Homo sapiens: one gene and its partners. The protein of the gene in region 1 purifies or fractionates together with the protein of each later gene. This does not show direct contact. Each region holds a gene or a part of one and is shown in the gene's direction. Other genes may lie near its edges.

What was found.
Region 2: the proteins of KIF20B (region 1) and CDC42BPA purify together in Homo sapiens (affinity purification with mass spectrometry; one large-scale study listed by BioGRID and IntAct). This does not show direct contact.
Region 3: the proteins of KIF20B (region 1) and SLC38A2 purify together in Homo sapiens (affinity purification with mass spectrometry; one large-scale study listed by BioGRID and IntAct). This does not show direct contact.
Region 4: the proteins of KIF20B (region 1) and ASTE1 purify together in Homo sapiens (affinity purification with mass spectrometry; one large-scale study listed by BioGRID and IntAct). This does not show direct contact.
Region 5: the proteins of KIF20B (region 1) and YJU2 purify together in Homo sapiens (affinity purification with mass spectrometry; one large-scale study listed by BioGRID and IntAct). This does not show direct contact.
Region 6: the proteins of KIF20B (region 1) and CMBL purify together in Homo sapiens (affinity purification with mass spectrometry; one large-scale study listed by BioGRID and IntAct). This does not show direct contact.
Region 7: the proteins of KIF20B (region 1) and IMPACT purify together in Homo sapiens (affinity purification with mass spectrometry; one large-scale study listed by BioGRID and IntAct). This does not show direct contact.

What each region holds. Positions count from the first base shown.
Region 1 is NC_000010.11:89,704,590-89,708,089, forward strand, and holds part of KIF20B (kinesin-like protein KIF20B), read left to right. Parts: intron 1-704; 5' UTR 705-705; coding exon 706-852; intron 853-3,500. UniProt on the Homo sapiens protein: Plus-end-directed motor enzyme that is required for completion of cytokinesis. Required for proper midbody organization and abscission in polarized cortical stem cells.
Region 2 is NC_000001.11:227,143,993-227,147,492, reverse strand, and holds part of CDC42BPA (serine/threonine-protein kinase MRCK alpha), read left to right. Parts: coding exon 1-134; intron 135-1,755; coding exon 1,756-2,004; intron 2,005-3,500. UniProt on the Homo sapiens protein: Serine/threonine-protein kinase which is an important downstream effector of CDC42 and plays a role in the regulation of cytoskeleton reorganization and cell migration. Regulates actin cytoskeletal reorganization via phosphorylation of PPP1R12C and MYL9/MLC2.
Region 3 is NC_000012.12:46,362,774-46,366,273, reverse strand, and holds part of SLC38A2 (sodium-coupled neutral amino acid symporter 2), read left to right. Parts: intron 1-1,084; coding exon 1,085-1,167; intron 1,168-1,571; coding exon 1,572-1,630; intron 1,631-1,717; coding exon 1,718-1,885; intron 1,886-2,270; coding exon 2,271-2,350; intron 2,351-2,447; coding exon 2,448-2,548; intron 2,549-3,128; coding exon 3,129-3,253; intron 3,254-3,500. UniProt on the Homo sapiens protein: Symporter that cotransports neutral amino acids and sodium ions from the extracellular to the intracellular side of the cell membrane.
Region 4 is NC_000003.12:131,013,375-131,016,825, reverse strand, and holds the end of ASTE1 (single-strand DNA endonuclease ASTE1), read left to right. Parts: intron 1-113; exon of another isoform or gene 114-486; coding exon 487-682; intron 683-1,569; coding exon of another isoform or gene 1,570-1,644; intron 1,645-2,438; coding exon 2,439-2,769; 3' UTR 2,770-2,951; downstream 2,952-3,451. Other genes in the region: ATP2C1 (calcium-transporting ATPase type 2C member 1), read right to left, coding at 579-674. UniProt on the Homo sapiens protein: Structure-specific DNA endonuclease that specifically cleaves single-stranded DNA and 3' overhang DNA.
Region 5 is NC_000019.10:4,264,080-4,266,833, forward strand, and holds part of YJU2 (splicing factor YJU2), read left to right. Parts: intron 1-2,754.
Region 6 is NC_000005.10:10,305,103-10,309,390, reverse strand, and holds the start of CMBL (carboxymethylenebutenolidase homolog), read left to right. Parts: upstream 1-1,488; 5' UTR 1,489-1,766; exon of another isoform or gene 1,767-1,876; intron 1,877-4,288. UniProt on the Homo sapiens protein: Cysteine hydrolase. Can convert the prodrug olmesartan medoxomil into its pharmacologically active metabolite olmerstatan, an angiotensin receptor blocker, in liver and intestine. May also activate beta-lactam antibiotics faropenem medoxomil and lenampicillin.
Region 7 is NC_000018.10:24,443,670-24,447,169, forward strand, and holds part of IMPACT (protein IMPACT), read left to right. Parts: intron 1-1,723; coding exon 1,724-1,797; intron 1,798-3,500. UniProt on the Homo sapiens protein: Translational regulator that ensures constant high levels of translation upon a variety of stress conditions, such as amino acid starvation, UV-C irradiation, proteasome inhibitor treatment and glucose deprivation.

The sequences.
Region 1 (3,500 bases):
TCTGTCACCCAGGCTTGAGTGCAGTGGCGCGATCGCGATTCACTGCAACCTCTGCCTCCCGGGTTCAAGCAATTTTCTGCTTCAGCCTCCCGAGTAGCTGGGATTACAGGTGCCTGGCACCACGCCTGGCTAATTTTTTTTGTATTTTTAGTAGAGACGGGGTTTCACCATCTTGGCCAGGCTGGTCTTGAACTCCTGGCCTCGTGATCGACCCGCCTTGGCCTCCCAAAGTGCTGGGATTACAGGCGTGAGCCACCGCACCAGACCCAGATAACTGAGTTTTAACTTTTAAATGCTAAAACAAAGTCTGTAAGTAACATTCTACAGGAGTCACTAAGTAGATGACACAAGGTTATAATTTACCCTGTGATCTCCTTACTATTTGAGTTTTGAGAGGATTTCACGGAGAGAGTAAATATTTTATACCATCTTTACAGATTACCTGTACTCACGAAACCTCTTTGAATGGATATTATATGAAAATAGTAGGCTGTGTTCAGTATTATTAGAATCAGAGTCTGTAAATATAATTTGATCTTTAGTCTTTCCTGTAGGGCATTGTGTTATAAATGAAGCAATGTAATGCGTTTCTTTTCTAAAATCTAGTTATTTGGAGGGAAGTAGTGGGCTAGACTTTTGAAAGTGTGGGTGGCTTACATGCTGACTTATTAAGGTTGTTAAAGAAGTTGCTGTTATTCTTGCAGAATGGAATCTAATTTTAATCAAGAGGGAGTACCTCGACCATCTTATGTTTTTAGTGCTGACCCAATTGCAAGGCCTTCAGAAATAAATTTCGATGGCATTAAGCTTGATCTGTCTCATGAATTTTCCTTAGTTGCTCCAAATACTGAGGTAAGTACAAGAAAAGTATTGTGTTGATTATCATGCCTCCTTCTAATGCAAGGGTTGGCAAACAATGGCCTGTTTTTGTATTACCTGTTTTTGTACTTAGATACAAGCTAAGAATTGTTTTTATATTTTTAAATAGTGGAAGAAAAATCAAAATAGGAATAATGTCACATAACATAAAAATTATATGAATTTCAAACATCACTGTCCATAAAGTTTTATTGCATCACAATCGTGCTTATTGGTTTATTTATTTACTACATCCGTTGTGGCACTATAATGGCAGAGTTGAGTAGTTGTGAGGAGACTATAGGGTCTCTAGAACCTAAAATATTAGCTGTCTAGCTCTTTACAGAGAAAATTTATTGACTCCTGGATTGGCATGATGTTTTTGAGATTTGTCGTGTGTCATACATCAGTAGTTTTTCCCTTTTTATTGCTAAATAGTTGTCTGTTGTGCAGATATGCCACATTTCCATTTGTCGTTTGATGGACATTTAGGTAGTTTACAGTTTGAGGTCATTATAAATAATGCTGCTTTGAACATTCATGTGCAAGCCTTTTTGTGAACTTGTGTTTTCATTTTTCTTTGGTAAATACCTAGGAATACAAACTGTATAAGTTTAACTTTATAAGTAACTACTAAACTGTTTTTCAAAGTGGCTATCCCAGCAGTGGCAATGTATGTAGGTTCCAGTGCTTCTACCTCTTTGCTAACACTTGATAATGGAACTTTTTATTTCTAGTGGATGTGTAATGGTATCCTGTTGTGGTTTTAGTTTGCCCTTTCTAATGAGCACTCTTTCAAGTATTCTTGGCCATTTTTCTACTTTCTTTGTAAAGTGTCTCTTCAGATCTTTTTCCCATTTAAATTAGGTTGTTTCATTAGTGTTTTGTGAGAAATCTTTATGTATACAAATCCTTTATCAGATTAATAGTGTCTTGATGATCAGACATTTTAAAATTTAAAGACATTCAATTTAACATTTTCTTTTCTTCTTTGGTGAATTTTTTTGTGTGTGTGTTCTCTTTAAGAAACTTTCGCCTTCCCCAAAGTTTTTGTCTTACTTTTTCTAGAAATTTTAGTTTTCATTTGAGTAGTTATATCTGTGGTCCATTTTGAACAGTTTTTGTGTGCAGTTGATATAGGGACCCAGGTTAACTTTTTTCTTTTTCTTTTTAGCTTCCATACATTTTTTTTTTTTTAACTACATAAGTAGTTATTTCAGCATTATCTATTGAAAAGACTTTCCTTTCCCTGTTGTTTTGGTGCTTTACAAACGGCTGTGTATATGTGGATCTATTTCTGGATTTTATTCTCTTCCTTTGACCTATTTGTCCTTATTCCAACACAATACTCTCTATTTCTGTAGCTTTATAATGATTCTTGAAATTAGGTAGTGTGAATTCTCCAGTTTTGCTTTTCTAGGAAAATTTTGGCTTTTCTAGGTCCTTTGCATATTCATAAATTTTAGAATCAGCTTGCCAGTTTCTACAAGACAGCATCTTGGGATTTTGACTGGGATTGCATTAAATCTGTGGATCAGTTTGGAGAGAATTGACATCTTGACAATATTGAGTCTTAATCCATGAACACAGTATTCTTCATTTTATTTAGGTCTTTAATGTCTTAGCAGTATTTTATACTTGTCAATGTAGAGGCCTTTCGTGTCTTTTGTCAAATATATTTATAAACATTTTATGTTATTTGATGCTATTGTAAATATTTTTAGTTGCTTTATTTAGGCATAATGAAACACTGCATATATTTTAGATACGCAGTTTGATAAGTTTTGACATGTGCATACACTTATGTAACTGTCACTACAGTCAAGATAGTGAGTATAACCATTACCCTCAAAAGTTTCCTTGAGGCTCCTTGTAAGTGCTCCCTCCCATCACACCTCCAAGTAACCTCTGATTAGCATTTTGTTAGTATACATTAATTTTTTGTAGATTTGTTGGATTTTGTATGCGTATGTTCATGTTGTTTCTAAATAAAGAAAATTTTATTTCTTCCTTCCCAATTTGGATGACTTTTGTCTTTTCATTTCCTTTTTTTCTTTCCATTTTTTTTTTCCTTTTCTTTCCCCTCCTCTCCCCTCCACTTCTTTCTTTCCCTTCTTCCCTTCCCTTTTACCTTTCTTTTTCCTTTCCTTTTCTCTTCCCTTTTTCTTTCCCTTACCCCTCCTTTTTTCTTCCCCCATCCCCTTTCCCCCTTCACACCCAATTACACCAGCTAGAACCTTTAATACAATGTTACTAGAAGTGGGGAAGCAGAAATCCTCTTCTTATTACTCATTTTGCTGCTCATCTTAGATTGAGTCTTTCCTGTTAAGTTTGTTGTTAGCGATAGATTTTTTGTAAGTGCCCTTTATCAGGATGAGGAAGTTTGCATTCATTACACTTTGCTGAGAATTTTTATTACAGATGGACGTTGGATTTTGTCAAATGCTGTTTTCCCATCTGTAGAGATAAAAGTTTCTCTTCATTTATTCTTTTAATATGGTTAATTGCCTGGATTGATTTTTGAATGCTAAACAGACTTTATATTCCTAGAATAAACCATTCTTGGTCAGATGTATTATCCTGTTTTATATATTGGCTAGTATTTTGTGTGGGAAATTTTGCGTATATCTTAATGTGGTATT
Region 2 (3,500 bases), on another chromosome or scaffold:
ATGGAAAAGGGAGATATGGACCTGAATGTGACTGGTGGTCTTTGGGGGTCTGTATGTATGAAATGCTTTACGGAGAAACACCATTTTATGCAGAATCGCTGGTGGAGACATACGGAAAAATCATGAACCACAAAGTTAGTATGTTTTACTTTTGTTCAAATTAATGTGGTAAATAACACATATAATAAAACCATTTTTAAAGAGAAAATATTTTTCTAAAAACAGTGAACAATCACATTTCTATCCTAGTATGGGACAGGACAACATAAATAGTCAAAATCCATAAATTATTCATAAGTTATTAGTTCTAATTTTCTTGTATTTTATTAGAGATGCCGCTAAGTAGGAAATTAAGTGGTCTCCCCAGTAGAATAACAAAGGTCGTAAGTAGAGAATTTAGATCATTGCTTACTATAGTATATGTATAATCATGACTAGAATATGTGTAAAAAAATTTTCAACTTTAGTGGTAATAAGTGCAATACAAATTTAAAATAAGGATGAGATACTTTTTTTTCTTGTCAAATTAGCAAAGATCAAAAGAAAAATAGTACTCTGTACCATAAATAATGCAGTGAGATGGGCATTCTAAGACATTAATAGGAATATAAATTGGTGTAACCTTTCTGTTCAGGAAGTTTACAGGTGTGCACCTAGAGCCTTAAAAAATGGTTAGAGGTTTTGATTGAGCAACTTCAGTCTAGGAATCTACCCTATGACATTCTCAGTAGAACAAAGATATATGTACAAGGATACCTATTCTAACGTTATTTATGATCACAGAACACTAGAAGCAACACAGACACACAACAAGAACAAATTAATGAAACGTTAATATATTTAGTACTAAGTGAAATAGACTGTTCATAATAATAAGAAGAAAGGTTTTATTAGCAGTCTTAGAAGATTGTGAGCAGTTGCAAATACTTAGAATATGAATATCCGATAGAAGGGAATGATAATCTATTCTTTTTAATTTGTTCTAGTGAAGCAATTATGATTAGTTGCTTTACATGTATAAAAATCAGTTTTATAGGGTTTATATTCTTCTTCCTGTTTGCAAAGATAATGTTTCATATAGTTATAAAGAGTTGAAAGACTGGAAATAGCAGCAGGGTTGTAAATAGCATGTACATCATTTGAATTAGAAAAAAATATTGTAGTATATATTTAACAGCACAGATTACAGCTTCAGTTCAAATTCTGGTTCTGCCACTTCCTAGATGTGTAATGTTGAGAAAGTTACTTGAATTCTGTGTGTCTTTATTTCTTCTATAATATTAGCATAGTAGGAGTACCCACCTAAAATGACTGTTTTGAGGGTTAAATGAGTAACGTACTTTAAATAGTGTCAGATACATATTATGTCCTTTAAAAATATTTATTATTAGTTAATCATTAGTATGTAACTTATATGACCATTATCAATCATCTATCTTGATTTAAATAGAGTCAAATTCCACTACTTTGAAGTAATTTCTCTTCATTCTGATAGCAGTTTAAGATATCTAAGGTACAATGTATTCTTCTTTCTATAGCGCATGCATGATTGAGTCATATATGAAATTAAAAGTCCTAGGAAAATGATCTTCTGTCATTCATCCCTGTATTCCTTTAGTATTAGTACTTTGCACCAACATGCAGTTATTAGATATATTTAAAATAAAATGTATTTTTAAGAAAATAAATAAGTCAACCAACTACTTAGTATGTTAAACACTGATTTATATTTTGTTTCTGTTTTTCTCTGTTTAGGAGAGGTTTCAGTTTCCAGCCCAAGTGACTGATGTGTCTGAAAATGCTAAGGATCTTATTCGAAGGCTCATTTGTAGCAGAGAACATCGACTTGGTCAAAATGGAATAGAAGACTTTAAGAAACACCCATTTTTCAGTGGAATTGATTGGGATAATATTCGGAACTGTGAAGCACCTTATATTCCAGAAGTTAGTAGCCCAACAGATACATCGAATTTTGATGTAGATGATGATTGTTTAAAAAATTCTGTAAGTATGACACTGTGAAGAAGTTCTGTCCCTCTGTTTCTTTCTACTATGGTTATATAGTAATTTTTTGGTTTATAAGTATTTTGCTAGGATGATTTTACAATGATCAGTTATTAGTCAGTGATCATGGCTTCTGGTGCTTATTCTGTCACAAATCAAATTAAGAAGAAAGTTAACTGAGGTGAACATAGTTATTTGTGACTAAGAACAAAATTAAAATTCAAAGTTTTACCTCTTAGATAAGTTATGCCATTAAGCTTCGTAAGAGAACAAATTAGATATTTAAAAAAGCAGATTTTATGATTGTAAAGTGCAGAGGTTGGCAAATTTCTCCCTAAAACCATAAAACTGGACAAAATTATCAAAATCAACCATGTCAGGGCCTGATACAACAATTGAAGAGAAATAAATTGAGAAGCATTTATTTGTGAAAAACTGCTGAACTTTAGTTTAAAGTCACATATACCACACACGTCCATCCCCACTACTGACTTGGTCTGGGACAGTAGTACTAGTAGCATGGAACTGGATAGAAAAATCAGCAGCTTTGCTGATACAGAGGGCAGATTCCAGGACTAAATACCCAAGCCCAGTGTGTTGCTGCTAACAATAGCAAACTTGGTAGGAAATCAATAGGGAAAATAGTCCACAGACGTGGTATAGCTCTGAGGTATAGCCCTGCCTGAGGTGAATACAGACCTCAAGCCAATTATTCGGCCAGTCCAATAGCCAAATAATTCAACCATTCTTAACTTGTGAGCCATGCCAAAACAGGCCAACATAGTATATTGACCTCTGCTATAACCCTTTAGGTTATATGAGATTAAAATTTAGGAAAATAAGAACTTAAAATTTTTGAGTTTTTTGCCTTTTTAGCCTTCCTCTTTTTTTTTTTTTTTTTTTTTTTTTTTTTTGAGACAGAGTCTCGCTCTGTCTCCCAGGCTGGAGTGCTGTGGCACAATCTCGGCTCATTGCAAGCTCCGCCTTCCGGGTTCACGCCGTTCTCCTGCCTCAGCCTCCTGAGTAGCTGGAACTGTAGGCGTGCGCCACCACACCTGGCTAACTTTTATGTTTTTAGTAGAGACGGGGTTTCACCGTGTTAGCCAGAATGGTCTTGATCTCCTGACCTTGTGATCCGCCCTCCTCAGCCTCCCAAAGTGCTGGGATTATAGGCATGAGCCACTGCTCCCGGCCCCTTTTTAGCCTTCTTAATTTGAGCTTTTATTTTTATTCAGTTATTTTATTTACTATGGCTTTAATCCTGTACTAAAAATTTTTATGTTAATGTTATATGACTTAACAAAATCTTTATTTTTAATTTTTGTGGGTACATAATCGGTACACGTTATATAACTTTTCACTGAAACAGTGAATACTATTTCAATACAATAAGCTGTGATCACTGTTTGATAACTGATAATTGTAAAACCATCCTAGTACTGTATTCAAGGCAGATAAAAATTTCTCATACTTTCCTGTCTAAACTTCACAAAGAA
Region 3 (3,500 bases), on another chromosome or scaffold:
CATCTCCAAGATACTTCAAATATGTATGTGCAGGTACTCCAAAGTCCAAAACACTTCGGTCCCAAGCATTTTGAATAAGGGATACTCAACATGTGCCAGAAAATGTTTGGGCATGCTATAGAAACCATTTTCTTCTAGCAAAGTTACTCATCCCAGTGAACTCACAGGTATTTATCTAAAGTAAACATGGGGAAGGATAATTTACTTCCCACCCTATGTGCAGCTCATTACGTCAAAATAGAGAAGTGCTGTTATCTCAGATGTGGCTTTAGAAATTTAATTTTTTAAGCTGATCTTTAAGTGTTGGTGTTCTGCAGAGTGCTTACTGCTGAAGTGAACAGAATTCATGAGGCAATTAGAATTTGAAAATAGTGATTTAGAAGACAGTGCAATTCATGATTTACCTAAAAAGAAAAAGGCTTAGAGGATATACATAATGTTTTCTAAAGTTCAAAAGGGATATTTTTGGCTGTCTTTGGAGTTAAAGGTGGGTCAAGATGTCACAACATACTCTGATAACCTGGAATAAGTCCTGGTTTGGGGGACTGAGTTTTATAATTTTTTTTATGGGGGGGGCAGTTTGCCTGTGCATTTTATGAAAACGTTTCCTCATTGAAATATTTAATAATATTTGCTAACGCATCTGGAAAAAAACTTGTTTTAAAATTTTTTAGTTTCCAGCATTAGAAATTACATGCTAAAGCTGTACCAAAGTTGGTGTACAATTTTTCTGAAAGTGCTTAAAGATAAGATTACTGGCTTAACAAACAAGCTTTGTTCCCTGCATTAGTATCAAGTCTTTGAGAAGCATTTTGTGTTATGAATCAGCTGGCAGCCTTCCCAGAGCAAGTAGTGGGACAAAAGTTACACTGTTTTATACCCGACTTCTAACCTGAGTAAATGTTCATCTAGCACACAAAATTAAAAAGTTATTCCTATCTTGAACAGGGGAAACTTTTTCCAAACATGTCTTTTTTGTGTGTTTGTTTTCATGGTATTCCTATGAAATGAGTCCTGTTAGAAGATGTGTATATTTTTCAGAGGATATTTGTGACTGTTTTGACCTTGTTTCTGTTTTCTTTAGATTGTGGTATCTGAACGGGAACTATTTGGTTCTGTTGGTGTCATTGGTGGTCATTCTTCCTTTGTCGCTGTTTAGAAATTTAGGTGAGCAAACTCATCTCTAAAGAGAATTGAAATGAGCCTCTCACCAGTTAGTTGGGCTTTCTCTGAATAGAAATTAATCAGAATGAAAAAGCCCTAGAAAGTAGAAAGGTATATCTTTGGGACTTACAGCATGCAAAATTTAGGAGCCAAAATATTTAATTGACACTATATGTTGTGCTTTGTAAGAAATAATGCAAATGATAGTTTTTATTAGCTTGGGTTATGACAAGTATATTTAAATAAATCTATAATTTAGTATCATAAGAATTAGAAATTTAGTGCTATACACATACTTTAGTGCCTAAAGTCTTCCCAGCAGAATTGAGTTATTCAGTGGGAAAAAGATATTTGCCTTAAATCTGTTTCATTAAACTAATACTGATTCCTGCCACCCCTCCTTATAGGATATTTGGGATATACCAGTGGCCTTTCCTTGTTGTGTATGGTGTTCTTTCTGATTGTGGTGGGTATGATTTTTTTTTTAGAAAAAATTTTTTATAAGCCCTGCCATGTCACTTAGTTTAACACATGCAAAATAATATATTTTTAGGTCATTTGCAAGAAATTTCAGGTTCCGTGTCCTGTGGAAGCTGCTTTGATAATTAACGAAACAATAAACACCACCTTAACACAGCCAACAGCTCTTGTACCTGCTTTGTCACATAACGTGACTGAAAATGACTCTTGCAGACCTCACTATTTTATTTTCAACTCACAGGTAACTAAATATGCTTATTTTCTCAAAAGAAGAGTTTAGGGAAGAAAAGAGGGAAGCTATTCACTCCCAGGGTAAAGGGAGGAGGATAATAGGTGCTTTATAGAAAACATGTGATTAGCTAATTATTGAGGACTGTGAAGAAAGTTTTGGTTTACATCTGAAAATAGATTGAGAATTGAGATAATCATATGGTGCTAATAATTGACACATTCAGAAGTGAGGATATTGATCATACTTCATGAACAGATTAGAAGAATGGAAGCTAATTACACAAAGGAAACTTAGGCTTTGATTCTAAGATTGTTTACATAAAATATATGCTGCGGAAATGTGACAGCATGAGTTCGTTACATCAGATTAAGTAGATTTTTACGTTTTCTTTCAGACTGTCTATGCTGTGCCAATTCTGATCTTTTCATTTGTCTGTCATCCTGCTGTTCTTCCCATCTATGAAGAACTGAAAGAGTGAGTATTTCATTTTTACATAAATTTGAGAAAATATTAGACAATTGCTGTAACTGCTGCTGAAATATATATTTGAATTTTCTCTTGAATTACATAGCCGCAGCCGTAGAAGAATGATGAATGTGTCCAAGATTTCATTTTTTGCTATGTTTCTCATGTATCTGCTTGCCGCCCTCTTTGGATACCTAACATTTTACGGTAAGTAACGCCTCCTTTACCAAAACAAAAACAAAAACAAAAAAAAACGCTTATTGAAATGAAGCTGCTAGTTTTCTATGTGTAGTTCCATCACTTTAAAAATAGTCTGTTTTAATATATTTCATATTTGTGATGAGAAATTAAATTTAGAGCTTAGAATTTTCTGTAGTGTATTTAATCAGTAATTTCTAGAATCCAGGTTTGAAAATATCATTAATCATTTGATGGCATATTTGTATGATATGCCAGCCTCTGAGTTCATATTGCCTGTCTCCTCTCCCATCACCTTCAGACTATGTAACACAAACACAAATTGCAAGCCAAGCCAGGAGATTTAGCTGCTTAACTCCTGTTGTTTTTAATGGGAGTCATGTGGCTAAATCTCTGTGGTATTTAGAAAAATTTTCCTTCAATGTTACTTTAATTGCATTAACTATAATTCCAAACAAATCTTATTAGCCTCTTAGTTTATAGTCGTTTTGTGAGTAGCTAAATAACTGGTGCACATTTTGCTGTTAAATTTTCTACTTGGTGTCCAATGAAAACAGCCAATCAAAGTTTTTTTGGTCTTTCCCTGTAGAACATGTTGAGTCAGAATTGCTTCATACCTACTCTTCTATCTTGGGAACTGATATTCTTCTTCTCATTGTCCGTCTGGCTGTGTTAATGGCTGTGACCCTGACAGTACCAGTAGTTATTTTCCCAGTAAGTAATCACTTGCTCTGCTTTCAGTAGGAAGGAGTTTTTAGACATGTGAATATTGGTGAGATTTTCATCTTCTGGAAGAAGGGAAACACCAGTAGAACAATACTAAGTTGGTGGTGGTTTTGAAGGGGCTTTTTAAAAATACAGTGTATATTTTCAAAATACCCTGGGGACATTTTTTTCACCATAAGATATAAAATGATCTTTAAGTGTTCAGATGTTCAGGAAACAGCAGAGAAAGAGGCAC
Region 4 (3,451 bases), on another chromosome or scaffold:
TTTGCCAAATTCTCCAAGTCATACTTTAGCTTCCTCCTATAAAACACAGAGGTCAAAATGTGTTTTGAACACACAGGTTGTTTCTTTAACACAAATGCACCACAGCTTGGGAGTTTCGGTGAAAGAGAACAGTAAAGAGAATAATATTTAATAGTCATTTGTATTTTTCATAGACACAGATTTAGGGTTTAGAGAATTCAAATGCAGACATGTTTATGGTCAGGTAGTAGACCAGTGGAAAAGATCTTATTTCAGGGAAAAAGTAAATTCCGATGGGTTGAATAAAGTTAGGTCATCATTAAAAAGACAGTTCAGTATCAATATTTCAATTTATACAGCAAGGCATTTATGAAGCCAGAAGAGAAAAACATCTTAGTTTTTTTAAATTAATTTCTTTCTTTATAGAATTTGTAGTATATGTGGAGAAAATGAAAAGCTGTTACAGTGCTTTTAGAAATACTGCCCTTGGGCTGTTTCTTTATTTAGGTAAGGAAGAGCTGCAGGAAGATGGTGCTAAGATGTTGTATGCAGAGTTCCAAAGAGTGAAGGCGCAGACACGGCTGGGCACAAGACTGGACTTAGACACAGCTCACATCTTCTGTCAGTGGCAGTCCTGTCTCCAGATGGGGATGTATCTCAACCAGCTGCTGTCCACTCCTCTCCCAGAGCCAGACCTAACTCGGTAAGCACCATGGGAAACTTTAGTTCAGATGGAAGCACACAAAAGTAAATACAGTATTTTCACTTATATTTAAAGCAACAAAGTTACTTAAAAAAAAAAACCAAAACAAAAAAAAACTAATCTTAATGTAATTGATTTTGAGTCACTGTTACAGCTGAAGAGCTGGAAACGGGAAAAATATTAAATTATTTCCATATTCTCAAAGAATGTTTCCATGATTCAATCCAATTTTAAAAAATCAGTTCCTTTAAGTAATACATTAATATGTGGGAGAGGGGAGGCAATCATTGGTAGGATACAACTCTCTCCTTTCCTCTCAGTCTTTAAATGTCACTTTGTAGAGCCTTTTTCTGATAACCCACCCTAGTGAGACACACTGTCTACCCTCATTCACTCTAGTCCTGTTACTCTATTTTTTTTTAATTGCATTTCTTACCACTTGGCATATGGCTTACTCATTCATTCAGATATTAAATGCCTACCCTGTGCTAGGGTGTAGGGACAAAAACAGAATCTCAGCTCTAATGGAGCTTTCATTCTAAGTGAGATGATGAGTAGATGCCCAAGTGAACTTAACCTAGGATGTTTGCTTTACCAGGCAAGAAGGACAATAAGGGAGTTGAGCCTATGTGCCACAGAGTAATTATAATGTTTGTCTGTGGAGTTTAAGCTGGGTATGATAAAAAGAAGTGACAGCAGCAGTAGGGTGTGGAGCAGTGAAAAAAGTGATAGGATCAATGGATTGGACATCTTGGTAATTGACCATCCAGGAGGTACTTGAGGGAGAGATGAAGATAAAAAGGAGATAGATTGTGTTTTGTTTGTCTCTCCACTCAGATGTAAACTCTGTGGGGGGAGGGGCTTGTCTATTTTATTTGCTGTTGCAGCCCCAGTGCCTTCAATACTTTGAATGAGGATATATGGACGCATACAAAATATGGTGGGACTTTACATGTTTCAAGGTAAAAAGCCTCCTGGCAGTAAACAGTGTTGTTAATATATCTCTGGGCCTTATATCTGAGCTAACACAAATAAGACTAATTGGCCTTTGACCCCTGGATTCTTTATTTCTTTCGTTTAATAATTTAAGGCCATTCTTGACTGGATCCTCTTTAGTTACCACAAATCCTTTTAAAACAAAACAGGAAATGCAAAACAAAACAGTTCTCTTAATAATGATTTAAACAGCAGGATTGTTCTTGAATCTTAGCATAACCAAGGCTTTTTACACAGAGATGTTACACTGATTAAATGATGGTTCTACATGGATTGCTAAGGTACCAGTTTATCAGCTTTGTCCATAATAAACTTGTGGATTCCAATTAATCCCATCTTCTATTTGTGAAGTAGGTTTTTAGTCTCAGTGAATGACCTTGCAAATGATGCCAATAAATTTTCTCATATTCTAACAAACTGCCTGTTTGGTTTATCAGGGTCCTTTTAAATTCCTTTTCTTTAAAATTAAAGTGTTTGTTAAAGACACCTGCTCAGTCTGGGGCTAGCTGCAAAACCACTAAGCATGCATCACGTAATTTGTTGATGAAAAGTTTTTAAGTATCACCAGCAAAGAATCTTTGTCATACCAGCTCAGTTCCTTCCTTCAAAGAACAGATTATTCTTAAGTAATTTCGATAATATTATAGAGCAATAAGAGCTCTCATTGTTTAGATGCATTTGTTGAAGCTATGTCAATGGTAGTTATCCTGTTGCACTGAATTACTTCTTTAACAACATACTTTTTTCTTGCTTTGAACAGACTGTACAGTGGAAGCCTGGTGCACGGACTATGCCAGCAACTGCTAGCATCGACCTCTGTAGAAAGTCTCCTGAGCATATGTCCTGAGGCTAAGCAACTTTATGAATATCTATTCAATGCCACAAGGTCATATGCCCCCGCTGAAATATTCCTACCAAAAGGTAGATCAAATTCAAAAAAAAAAAGGCAGAAGAAACAGAATACCAGCTGTTCTAAGAACAGAGGGAGAACCACTGCACACACCAAGTGTTGGTATGAGGGAAACAACCGGTTTGGGTTGTTAATGGTTGAAAACTTAGAGGAACATAGTGAGGCCTCCAACATTGAATAAAACTCAGTTTGCATCAAACTAGATGTATTTAATATAATCCTTACTTAAAATTCTTCCGTTACCACCCTTGAAACAATTAGCTTTTTCTTTAGGACTGACCTGTTAGGGGATAAACATCACAATAATCTGAATTCCAAGTTATTTTGTATTTTGTTTTTAATAAATACAACCTGATTTAAGAAGCTTCTGTATTTCTAAATATGTTTGAAACCATGTTTATACTTCTCATGTTCCATTTCAGCAAGTTAATGGTAATATAGTCTATATGCTTTAAATTGCAGCAATTTAGCCAGCTACATTCTCAGAAAGTAGAAGTCTCACTCAATTATTGCCTTTAAGTAGCAGCTGGTTATCATTTCAAAAAGTTTTAAAAACAGTTTCCTCTTTGTACTTTAGTATGAAGTCTGGCCAATGAAAGTTAGAAGTGAGGATGCCAGACAGAAAACTGTCTCTACTAAAAGTAAGTACTTAGTCAATGAGACCATGACAGGATTGAAGAGCACTTTAGGTGCACTCCAGGTTTTAAAGGAGAAGTTGAAACTAATGGCTTCAGCCAAATAAGAAACAGCATCCTGAGCTGTTAGACCTGGAGAAGGAGGAAACAGTGAGAAGTGAAAATATCAAGAGATATATGCAGCAATACCAGACCCTATGCCCTCTTTATACTACAGATTTTGACCCA
Region 5 (2,754 bases), on another chromosome or scaffold:
GTGAAACCCCATCTCTGCTAAAAATACAAAAAATTAGCCGGGCGTGGTGGCGGGCGCCTGTAGTCCCAGCTACTCAGGAGGCTGAGACAGGAGAATGGCGTGAACCCAGGAGGTGGAGCTTGCAGTGAGCCGAGATTGTGCCACTGCACTCCAGCCTGGGCGACAGAGCGAGACTCTGTCTCAAAAAAAAAAAAAAAAAAAAAAAAAGAAACGATTGTTCTTTCTTCCTTTTTTGTTTGTTTGTTTGACACAGGGTCTTACTCTGTTGCCCAGGCTGGAGTGCAGTAATGCAGTCCCAGCTCACTGCAGCCTGAACCTCCTAGGCTCAAGCAATCCTCCCACCTCAGTCTCCTGAGCAGCTGGGACCACAGGCACGCACCACCACGCCTGGCTAATTTTTCTTTTCTTTCTTTCTTTTTTTTTTTTTAGACAGTTTCACTCTTGTTGCCCAGGCTGGAGTGCAGTGGTGTGATCTTGGCTCACTGCAACCTTCGCCCCCCGGGTTCAAGCGATTCTACTGCCTCAGCCTCCCAAGTAGCTGGGATTACAGGCGCCTGCCACCATGCCCGGCTAATTTTTGTATTTTTAGTAGAGATGGCGTTTCACCATGTTGGCCAGGCTGATCTAGAACTCCTGACCTCAGGTGATTCACCTGACTCGGCCGCCCAAAGTGCTGGGATTACAGGCGTGAGCCACTGTGCCTGGCCCCTAATTTTTCAAATTCTTTTTGCAGAGATGCGGTCTTGCTGTGTTGCCCAGGCTGGTCTCACGCACCTGGCCTCAAGCAGTTCTCCCGCCAAGGCACAGGGATTACAGACATCAGCCACCATGTCTGGCCCCAAGACATTTTTCTAAAAGACATTTTCTTTGAAGCTGTGTCCTCTGATTAGAGTTCTCACACTGTGGTTCTCACATAAACCACTCCCAGAATTCATTGTCTACAACTTCCTCTCTTCTTTTCTTTTTTTTTTGAATGAATCAACAGAGTAAAGGTACTTTGAAAGCAGTCCAACCTTTTTTGATTTACTCCCTCAGTCTTGTGCCTCTACCTGATTTGATAGCAGGTGTTTTATTTGGTTTTAACGTGATTCACCTTCATCAAGACTTTTCAAACCTTCACCCTAACTTTTATAGGAAGGAATATCTCCACACTTGCGTTTTCTTGGTTTATTTTATTTTTATTTTAGAGATGAGGTCTTGCTCTGTCACCCAGGCTGGAGTGCAGTGACGCGATCACAGCTCGCTGCAGCCTCCAACTCCTGGGCTCAAATGATCCTCCCACCTCAGCCTCTCAAGTAGCTGGGACCCACAAGTGTGTAGTGTGTGCCACCACAGCCAGCTAATTTTTAATTTTCTTTTCTTTTTTTTTTTTTAGAGGCGAGTCTGTATGTTGTCTAGGCTGGTCTCAAACTCCTATCCTCAAGCAGTCCTCCCGCCTTGGCCTCCCAATCCTTAGTTTAGTTTAATGATGATGAGTACCACCTGTAGAAACAGGTTTGGGAACTAACCTAGGTAACTTTTTTTTTTTTGAGACGGTCTTGTTCTTTCGCCCAGGCTGGAGTGCAGTGGCACGGTCTCGGCTCACTGCAACCTCCGGCTCCCAGCCTGTAGCAATTGTCCTGCCTTAGCCTCCTGAGTAGCTGGGATTACAGGCGTGTGCTACCACACCTGGCTAGGTTTTGTATTTTCTTTTTATTAATAAAGAGACGGGGTTTCACCATGTTGACCAGGCTGGTCTCGAACTCTTGACCTCAAGTGGTCCACCCGCCTCGGCCTCCCAAAGTGTTGGGATTACAGGTGTGTGCCTCTGTGCCTGGCCATCTGTGCCTTTTGACTTCTTTTCCTCATTTTGACATCAGCCCAGAGCTACGACATTTTTTTTTTTTTTTTTCGAGACGGCGTCTCGCCCTGTCACCCAGGCTGGAGTGCAGTGGCACGATCTCGGCTCACTGCAACCTCTGCCTCCCAGGTTCAAGCGATTCTCCTGCCTCAGTCTCCCGAGTAGCTGGGATTACAGGCGTGTGCCACCAAGCCTGGCTAATTTCTTGTATTTATAGTAGAGACGGGCTTTCACCGTGTTAGCCAGGATGGTCTCTATCTGACCTCGTGATCCACCTGCCTTGGCCTCCCAAAGTGCCGGGATTAGAAGCATGAGCCACTGCGCCCGGCCCAGAGCCACAACTTTAAGGAGGCCTCTCCACCACCTTAGCAGTGGCCGCCCCTCACACCGTCAGCTTGGCACTCAAGGTCTCTGCCCATTCTCCATCCCACCTAGCCTGCCCTGGCACTTCCTGAATCACACTGTGGCTTCTCATCACGCCTTTACCCATGCCATTCCCCTTACCTGGGATGCCCCCTTTGCCAAGCACTCGCTTGGTGAACTCCTACTCGCCCTTCAATACCCAATGCAAGACGCCCTTCCTCTGAGAAGCTCATCCTCACAATTCAAGCTCACGCACCCTGGCTTCTCTCTCACCCAGATGGATGTTATCCTGGGTATTGGTCTCCTTGTCCCTCTCCCTCCCCACACGGTGAGCTCCGTGAGGGCAGAGCACCCATTGGGACTTCCTTAACCCAGTGGTTACCACTTCCTCTATTTAAACATAAAACAGATTGAAGAGGCTAGATGCAGTGGCTCACGCCTGTCATCCCAGCTCTTTGGGACGCTGAGACGGGAGGATCGCTTGAGCCAGGAGTTTGAGACCAGCCTGGGCAACATAGCGAGATCCCGTCTCTACAAAAATTAAAAATGTT
Region 6 (4,288 bases), on another chromosome or scaffold:
GAATTGCTTGAACCCGAGAGGCGGAGGTTGCAGAGAGCCGAGATGGGACCACTGCACTCCAGCCTGGGCGACACAGCGAGACTCTGTCTCAAAAACAGCAACAGCAACAACAACAACAAAAACATCATAGATAGACTTGGGTAGCTTAAACAACATTTATTTCTTATAGTTCTGGAAGTTGGAAGTCTGGGATGGGCCAGCAGGATTGGGTTCTTGGTGAGTATCCTCTTCCTGGCATACAGATGAGGAAGCAAGCTCCCTTGCCTCTTTTTGTAACGGCACAAATCCCATTCTTGGGGGCTCCACCCTCATGACCTAAGCATCTCCCAAAGGCCCCGCCTCCAAATACCACCATGGGCGGGGTGGTTAGGATTTCAACGTACAAATTTTGGAGGGGACACAAACATTCAGTCCATAACAACACCTTTGCAGTGGGGATGGCAGGAAGTGCGGCCACCACGGTGCAATGGCTTTTTAATGTGCCCATTTGTCCAGGCTGAGCTATATTCCTAGAATTCCCTTTTCCTGTATGTTTCCAGTTTGAGTGAGCCACAGGGGTGTGCTTCTGCAGCCAAGTTGAAGCTGTTGTCATAACCTTGGGCAGATGACCAGAGAAAATACGAAGGAGGCAAGTATGAAACGTGTATTAATTTCTTTTTTAAAAAAAGGCTTAATTTGGGGCTGGGGCCGGGTGCGGCGGCTCACGCCTGTAATCTCGGCAGTTTGGGAGGCCGAAGCAGGTGGAACACTTGAGGTCAGGAGTTCGAGACCAGCCTGGCCAACACGGTAAAACTCCGTCTCTATTGAAAACACAAAAATTAGCTGGGCGTGGTGGCGCGTGCCTATAATCCCAGCTACTGGGGAAGCTGAGGCAGGAGAATCACTTGAATCCGGGAGGTGGAGGTTGCAGTGAGGTTGAGGTTGAGATCGTGCCACTGCACTCCAGCCTCGGCAACAGGGTTAGACTCCATCTCAAAAAAAAAAAAAAAAAAAAAAAAAATTGTGGCTGGGCATGGTGGCTCACACCTGTAATCCCAGCACTTTGGGAGGCTGAAGGGGAGGATCACTTGAAGCCAGGAGTTCGAGGCTCCAGTGATCTATGATTGTGTCACTGCACTCCAGCCTGGGTGACAGAATAAGACCCTATCTCTAAAATAAAATAAAATAAAATAAAATAAAATAAAATAAAATAAACAAAAAATAGCTTAATTTGTATTTACAACAGAAGTTACTTGTCTTGGAAGCCAGGCACGCACGTAAATCTCACAGAAGGCTGGCTGTCTTCCTTCTCCTGGCCTCCCTGCCTCCTCCCTCAAGGCTGCCTGATTCTCTTCTCCCTTCCTCTCTGCGGTTCCCTCCCTCCCACCCCCTCTCCCTGCACCTTTCTTTATCTTGGAGCCTCTCCCATCTCTCCCTCCCTCTTCCTCCCTACCCCACCCTCCGACCACCCCACTTCTTCCCCTCCCCTCACACTTCCCTCCCTCCCTTCTCTCGTCTCCTCCCCACTGCGCCTCCCTCCCTCCTGGCCTTCCTTCCCTTCCCCGACTTTGCAGATTTCTCTTCCCCCAGGCCTCCCTCCTCCACCTCTCCGCCCCCTCCGGGCTTGGCTCTCCCAGGAGGCTACGACTGGAGCCACTGGTCCCGCAGGATCCCCGCGTCCTCGGTCGCCGCGTCCACGTCCCTCTCGCGTCCCCGCCCGGCGCCACGCCGCCTCCTCTGGGTTCGGCCTCCGCGCGGTGCAGCGCAGTCTCAGGCCGCGGGACAAGGTACGTGCGCGTCCCCGGGGCACACAAGCCCACACAAGCCCGGGCCCCGCTCCTCTGAACTCCCGCGTGTGTTCTGACTATGGCAAAGAAGGTCTTTGCCGCGTGCACGGGTAAGGAACTTCCCATAGTCCGTTTTCAGAAGCTGACTTTCATAAAAGTGATACGTTGTCCTTGCAGAACAGCAGCCTCCACGATCCCATGCGTCCGAAGCAGCCGCTGTTTACATTTTGGTATTTTCCTGTAGGTGTTTCGCCATGCATTTTAAAGACATAGTGGAAATCACACCGTATGCAAACTTGCGTTCGTTTTGGCCATTTAGCACGGAGGAGCCTTTCCACCATGCCGTTAAATACTCCTTGTAACTCTCTTCCTGCAGTGAGACATTCTGGTTGTAGCGTTTTTACTAATATAAAACTATTAAAAAACTGAGCATATTTGCAACTAAATCAGCATCCACATTCGACAGCTTTTCTTTAGGGTGGGTATTAAGAAGAGAGGTGCTGGGTCTATGGATCTAAGAGTGGGACATCCTAAATGCTGGGTAGGTGTGCCAGGAACGACTGGACAGTTTACACCCCACAGCCATGTGGGTCGGGCAGGCCTTGGAAACACTGGGCACTGAGATTTATGTCCACTTGCTGATGGAAGATGCCACCTGTTGTTTTCAAAGCCCATTTAAAATAAAGTGGTTAGTAATGAGCCTCGCCGGTATCCGGGGAATCCTGTCCAGGCCTGGGAACCCTATCCAGGCCTAGGAACAGCCAGAGAAAAAGCAGATTCTGCAGGGGCGTCGTTGGCATGTCTAAGAGGGCCATTGTGGGCTCATCCAGGTAGCTTCCTAATTCATGCTATCTCGACCATAGACACTTGGAAAATACAAGCATGGCTGCTGAAAAATAAATATTTGGAGAAGTTTGATGTTTGTAGAATCATCTAAGGATAAGTACTGGCCCTGCCTTCCCTGCTGCAAGATTGAAAATCACTTGCCATGCAAGTTCCTACAATGTTTAAGCAGTAAAGGAGAAACCTCCTGCCTTTCCCATTAGACCCCACTTTCCTGTGTTGTCTTGGGGTCCTCTGTAACCCTGAGCCCTGGATGCACTTCCACGTGGTTTCTATTTCTAAATTTCTAAAGCTTCCAGAAATGTATTCCTCCCTTCTCTCCTCTCCTCCCCGCTGCGCCTCCCTCCCTCCTGGCCTTCCCTTCCCCTACTTTGCAGACCTCTCTTCCCCCAGACCTCCCTCCTCCTCCTCTCTGCCCCCTCCGGGCTCAGGCTCTCCCAGGAGGCTGGAGATGTATTCCTAGACTTCCCTGCTTGTTATAATCCCAACTGCACCAGTCCCTTTTGCTTGTCAAAATCTGTTTTCTCTATTTCTGTTGGAGAACTGCGTTGTGCCTGGAAGTCTGACTTGTGAGTTATTTGAATCCTTAGGGCGTGAAATCAGGAAAACCACACCCTCACCATACTTTATCACCTCTCTTACCTGTCTGACTGCCAGTGTTAGAAAGGGAATGTTTGATTACATTGTTAAAAGATAATTTTCAGCCAAAGGTGAAATCGTGACTTTTATACAGATATAAAAGTGATAAATATTTTATTTTATTCATTAAAGAGAGAAATAGGCAGATGTTGTAACTGGTTCAAAAAAGAAGTCAAGAAGTGCAAATGTATACGGAGTAAAGGAGTGCCTTGTGAAGGTACACGCAGGAGAGGAGCATACCCTTGGAATTTGCAGATCAAACACTCAACTGTAAGATTGGGCACAGTGGCTCATGCCTGTAATCCTAGCACTTTGGGAGGCCGAGGTGGATGTATCCTGAAGTCAGGAGTTTGAGACCAGCCTGGCCAACATGGTGAAACCCAGTCTCTACTAAAATACAAAAATTAGCCAGGCGTGGTGGCATGTGCCTATAATCCCAGCTACTCAGGAGGCTGTGGCAGGAATATCGTTTGAACCAGTGGGGCAGAGGTTGCAGTGAGCGGAGATTGCACCATTGCACTCCAGCCTGGGCAACAGAGTGAGACTCCGTCTCAAAAAAAACAAAAAACAAAAAACAAAAAACACTCAACAGTGATCCCCATGGGTTTTGATGTGTAATTTTCCAGAGGGACATGCTTGTGTTAGGCAGAGTGAGGCTCCTTCACCCCTACAGAGTGACTCCTGTGGCCCCTCCAGCTCTGCCTCACACAAGCAAATCTCTCTGGAAAATTACACATCAAAACCCATGGGGATCACTGTTGAGTATTTGATCTGCAAATTCCAATTCCATATGCTCCTCTCCTGTGCATACCATCACATAGAAGTCATTCACACATATGCAGCACCTTGCAGCAATGTCTATGGGGAATCATGCATTTGTGCTGGTGGTGGCCAGTGTGGGCATTGCCGACGAACATGGCCACCAGGGTGTCCTGCAGGGCACTCCACAGAGCTAGGAAAAGCGTCCTGATTTCCAGAGACGTCACCAGTGGAGACCACAGAACTGACCTGGGGATGACCAGAAGGTGGCCCCAAACACA
Region 7 (3,500 bases), on another chromosome or scaffold:
GGACAGTGGACAGACTGGCTAAACCAAGTCCTCCCTACCTGACTTACTTTCCTTTGTGCTTCTTGATCTTAGGTGACCATATTTCCACCCAGGGATATAAATGGGAGAGGTTTCAGCCATAAACTATTCCTAGGTCTTTGCCTTTCTCATTCTCCTTTCAGCAGAATCCTTTTCTTCTTCCTTGCTTCTATAATGTAGCTCAGCTTACATTATTGATGTACGAGGCAATTTCAATACTACCTGTAAAGTTACATTTTTAAAAATGTCTCATTTACTGCAGGTTTTAGGCATGAGTCTCTTCCTTTGGTCTTTGCAGCTACCCTACTCTTGAAGCTCTTTAAAGCCCTGGGCTTCAGGGATACAGCTCTTTGTACCAGGCTGTTTCACTCTCTGAAAGAGGAAGTTCTTTTCTGCGTTGACTTGTGGTCAAGATCATAACTTTTGGTGCAGACTTCTGGTCTTTTCTCTCAGGAATCCTATTTTGTCCCTGGCCCTTAGTCACATCTTCTTCCCAGGGTCCTCCTGAGACATTCTAATTCTGAATCTGTTTATTCTGGATCCTCTTTCTGTTTCTGATCACAGTCACTTAGATTTATAGCATTATAATTTGTGAGAGCTGAAACAAGTTTTAGAGGTCATTGTCTATTTTATTGATCAGAATTTGAGAACCTGAAAGATTATAAAATGATAAACAGAAGATTGCACAATTTGTGATCCAAATTGGTGTCCCCAACTCTAGCTCAGTCTTCCCTGCCACCAATATTTCTTCCATACTTCTTGCCATTACAACATCCCTGAAAAATCTGACCATGTGTCATTCTGTTCTCTCTCTTATCCACCTTCACACATGTAATCTTTGCTGATTTCCAATGTCTACAAGGGAAGATCTAAACTTATTACACAGATCCTTTGTAATATGGCCCTAGCTTATCATTCATGACACATCTTCTGTCATCTCATTCATACTCTAAGTTAAGCTGTGTAAAGCTTCCTGAACTTTTCTCTTTTTTGTTCCCACTAAGGTTGCCAGATAAAATACAGAATACCTAGTTAAATTTGAATTTCAGGTAAACATTATTGCATGGGATGTACTTATAGTAGAAAAATTACTTGTCGTTTATCTGAAATTCAAATTTAACTGGATGTCCTGTACTTTTATTTGCTAAATTTGGTCACCCAGTCCCTGTATTTTGCATATAGCCCTATTCTCTGTGTGGAATGTCTTCTTCCTGCCCCATCTTTCCTTTTGATGCAGGAGAACTGCCACTTATAAGACCTGGCTCATGTGACCTCCTCTATGAACCTTACTTGACTCCCAGAGAAAGATGTGGTTTTATAACATTTGGAACATACCACTATTGTACACCTGCTACATTGGATGTATACATTTGGTAAATTTCAGAGCTAGTTTTTAGAAGTTTTATATGATACATTTAAAATTCCCTACATGGGGAACAAACTTTCCCTTTGACATAGTAGTACCGAAATATTTGTTGATAATTAGTGCTCAAAAATACCAGGTCTGTCATTTTTATACCAATTATGAGTACCAGTCTCTGCCCCTAAAATGAGAAGGAAACTTTGGAAATGACTTTTTCAGAGTATAGTAGACTCTTTAAGTGACTATTTATTTTAATACAGCATGCTTCAAGGTATTTTTCTAGCATTTATTTACAGAGCAAATATAAAAAGCATACTTATTTATATTATTGCTGTTTTTAAGGTGAAAATGGTTCTTTCCAAATTGTATGAGAATAAGAAAATAGCTAGTGCCACCCACAACATCTATGCCTACAGGTGAGTAATCATCACAAGCTTTAGTATACTCAGTTTGTTAAAAATAGAGGGAAATGATGCATGATTTTAGAAAATAATAACTATTGTGTATTTTTTCCATTGTAATAGTAATAGACATGGAATATTTGGAAACTGCAGAAAAGATAAAAAAGAATTGAAGGGAAAAATCTGGCATTTTCTGCCATCAAATGTAACTGACAATATTTTGTTTTTTGTTTCATTTTTTTCTCTGCAAAGTTTAATTTTTCCCAATGCTTTATTTACCCTTGTATCCTGTTTTTTTCTTAATTAAACAAAAGCACTTTTTCATATTGTTATAACTGCTTGATAAATACTGTTTAATGGCTGTAAAATATTTGAGATGCCATACTACAATTAACCATTTCCTTTTAGTTTTTCATGTTTTTCACCATTATAAAGAGTGGTCCAGGGAACATCTTTGTATACTTTTTAGGTTATTTCCTCAGGATAGGTTCTGGTTGCTTGAGATTCTTTTTTGAAATGAAATGGGAATATAATAAAAGGAAGAAAGAATTCTTAGAAGTAGAATTATCAAAAAGTGTGAACAATTTTGAAACTCTTGATATATAGCCAAATTTCTTGCAAAGGTTTTGTTTTATTTTGGTTTGGTTTTTGAGACAGGGTCTCAAAAACCCTGTTGCCCAGGCTGGAGTACAGGGGCGTGATCTTGGCCCAAGCAATCCTCCCACCTCAGCCTCCCACGTTAACTGGGACTGTAGGTGCGAGCCACCATGCCCGGCATAATTTTTGTATTTTTTTGTAGTGACAGGGTTCTGCCATGTTGCCCAGGCTGGCCTCAAACTCCTGAGTTCAAGTGATCTGCCAACCTTGGCCTCCCAAAGTGTTAGGATTTACAGGTGTGAGCCCAAATGTTTTTAAAACCAATTTATGCTCCTGTAAGCAGTGAATTAAGAGTATTTCTTTTACTACATGAGTTTCAGTTTTGAGAATTCAGGTTTTTATATGCATCTTTGCTGATTTGTAAGTGAAGAGATGAAGGGCATTTGAAAAAATACGCAAATTTGTAAGACTTTAAAAGTACATAGTTTAGGCCTAAAATAAATCAGAACACAGGGACTTGGTGTAAATTTAAAATGTGATTGAGACTATTTGTAGAATCTAGGCTATCTGAAACTGAAACTCAAAAATTCATCATTTTGAGTAGGTGAGTTCTTAATATTACTAATTTCACATCTCTTTAAGTGCCAAAACTTACAAACAATTATTTGTTATGTAATTCCCCTCTTAATAGAGTATCACTGGATAGAATTTTAATGTTTTCTTAAGCAGTTATGGCCTTCAATAGGAAAATGAGGAATTAGACTACTCTCAGTCATTAAAATGGGCTGTAAAAATTGTAATGTTCATTTATTCTACATGTTTTTTGAGTGCCTACTCTGTGCCAAAACTTTATGTAAATTAACTCTTATTAGTTAGCAATTCTAGCACTGTAAAAAGGTTAGCTTTTTCAAGATCCCATAGTTAAGTGATGGAGCTGAATTTGATAATCCAATTTCATTTGTTTTCTTTATTTCACTCCTCTATGGCTGTGGCTACAGCTTCAACAATCTTGTATCTAAGCTATGTAAAAAAAGAAAAAAGTACTCATAGTATTTTAACTTTAATGTTCATAGTAGATGGTCAGTAAATATTTATTGAGTGGATGGATGGATGAAGGGAAG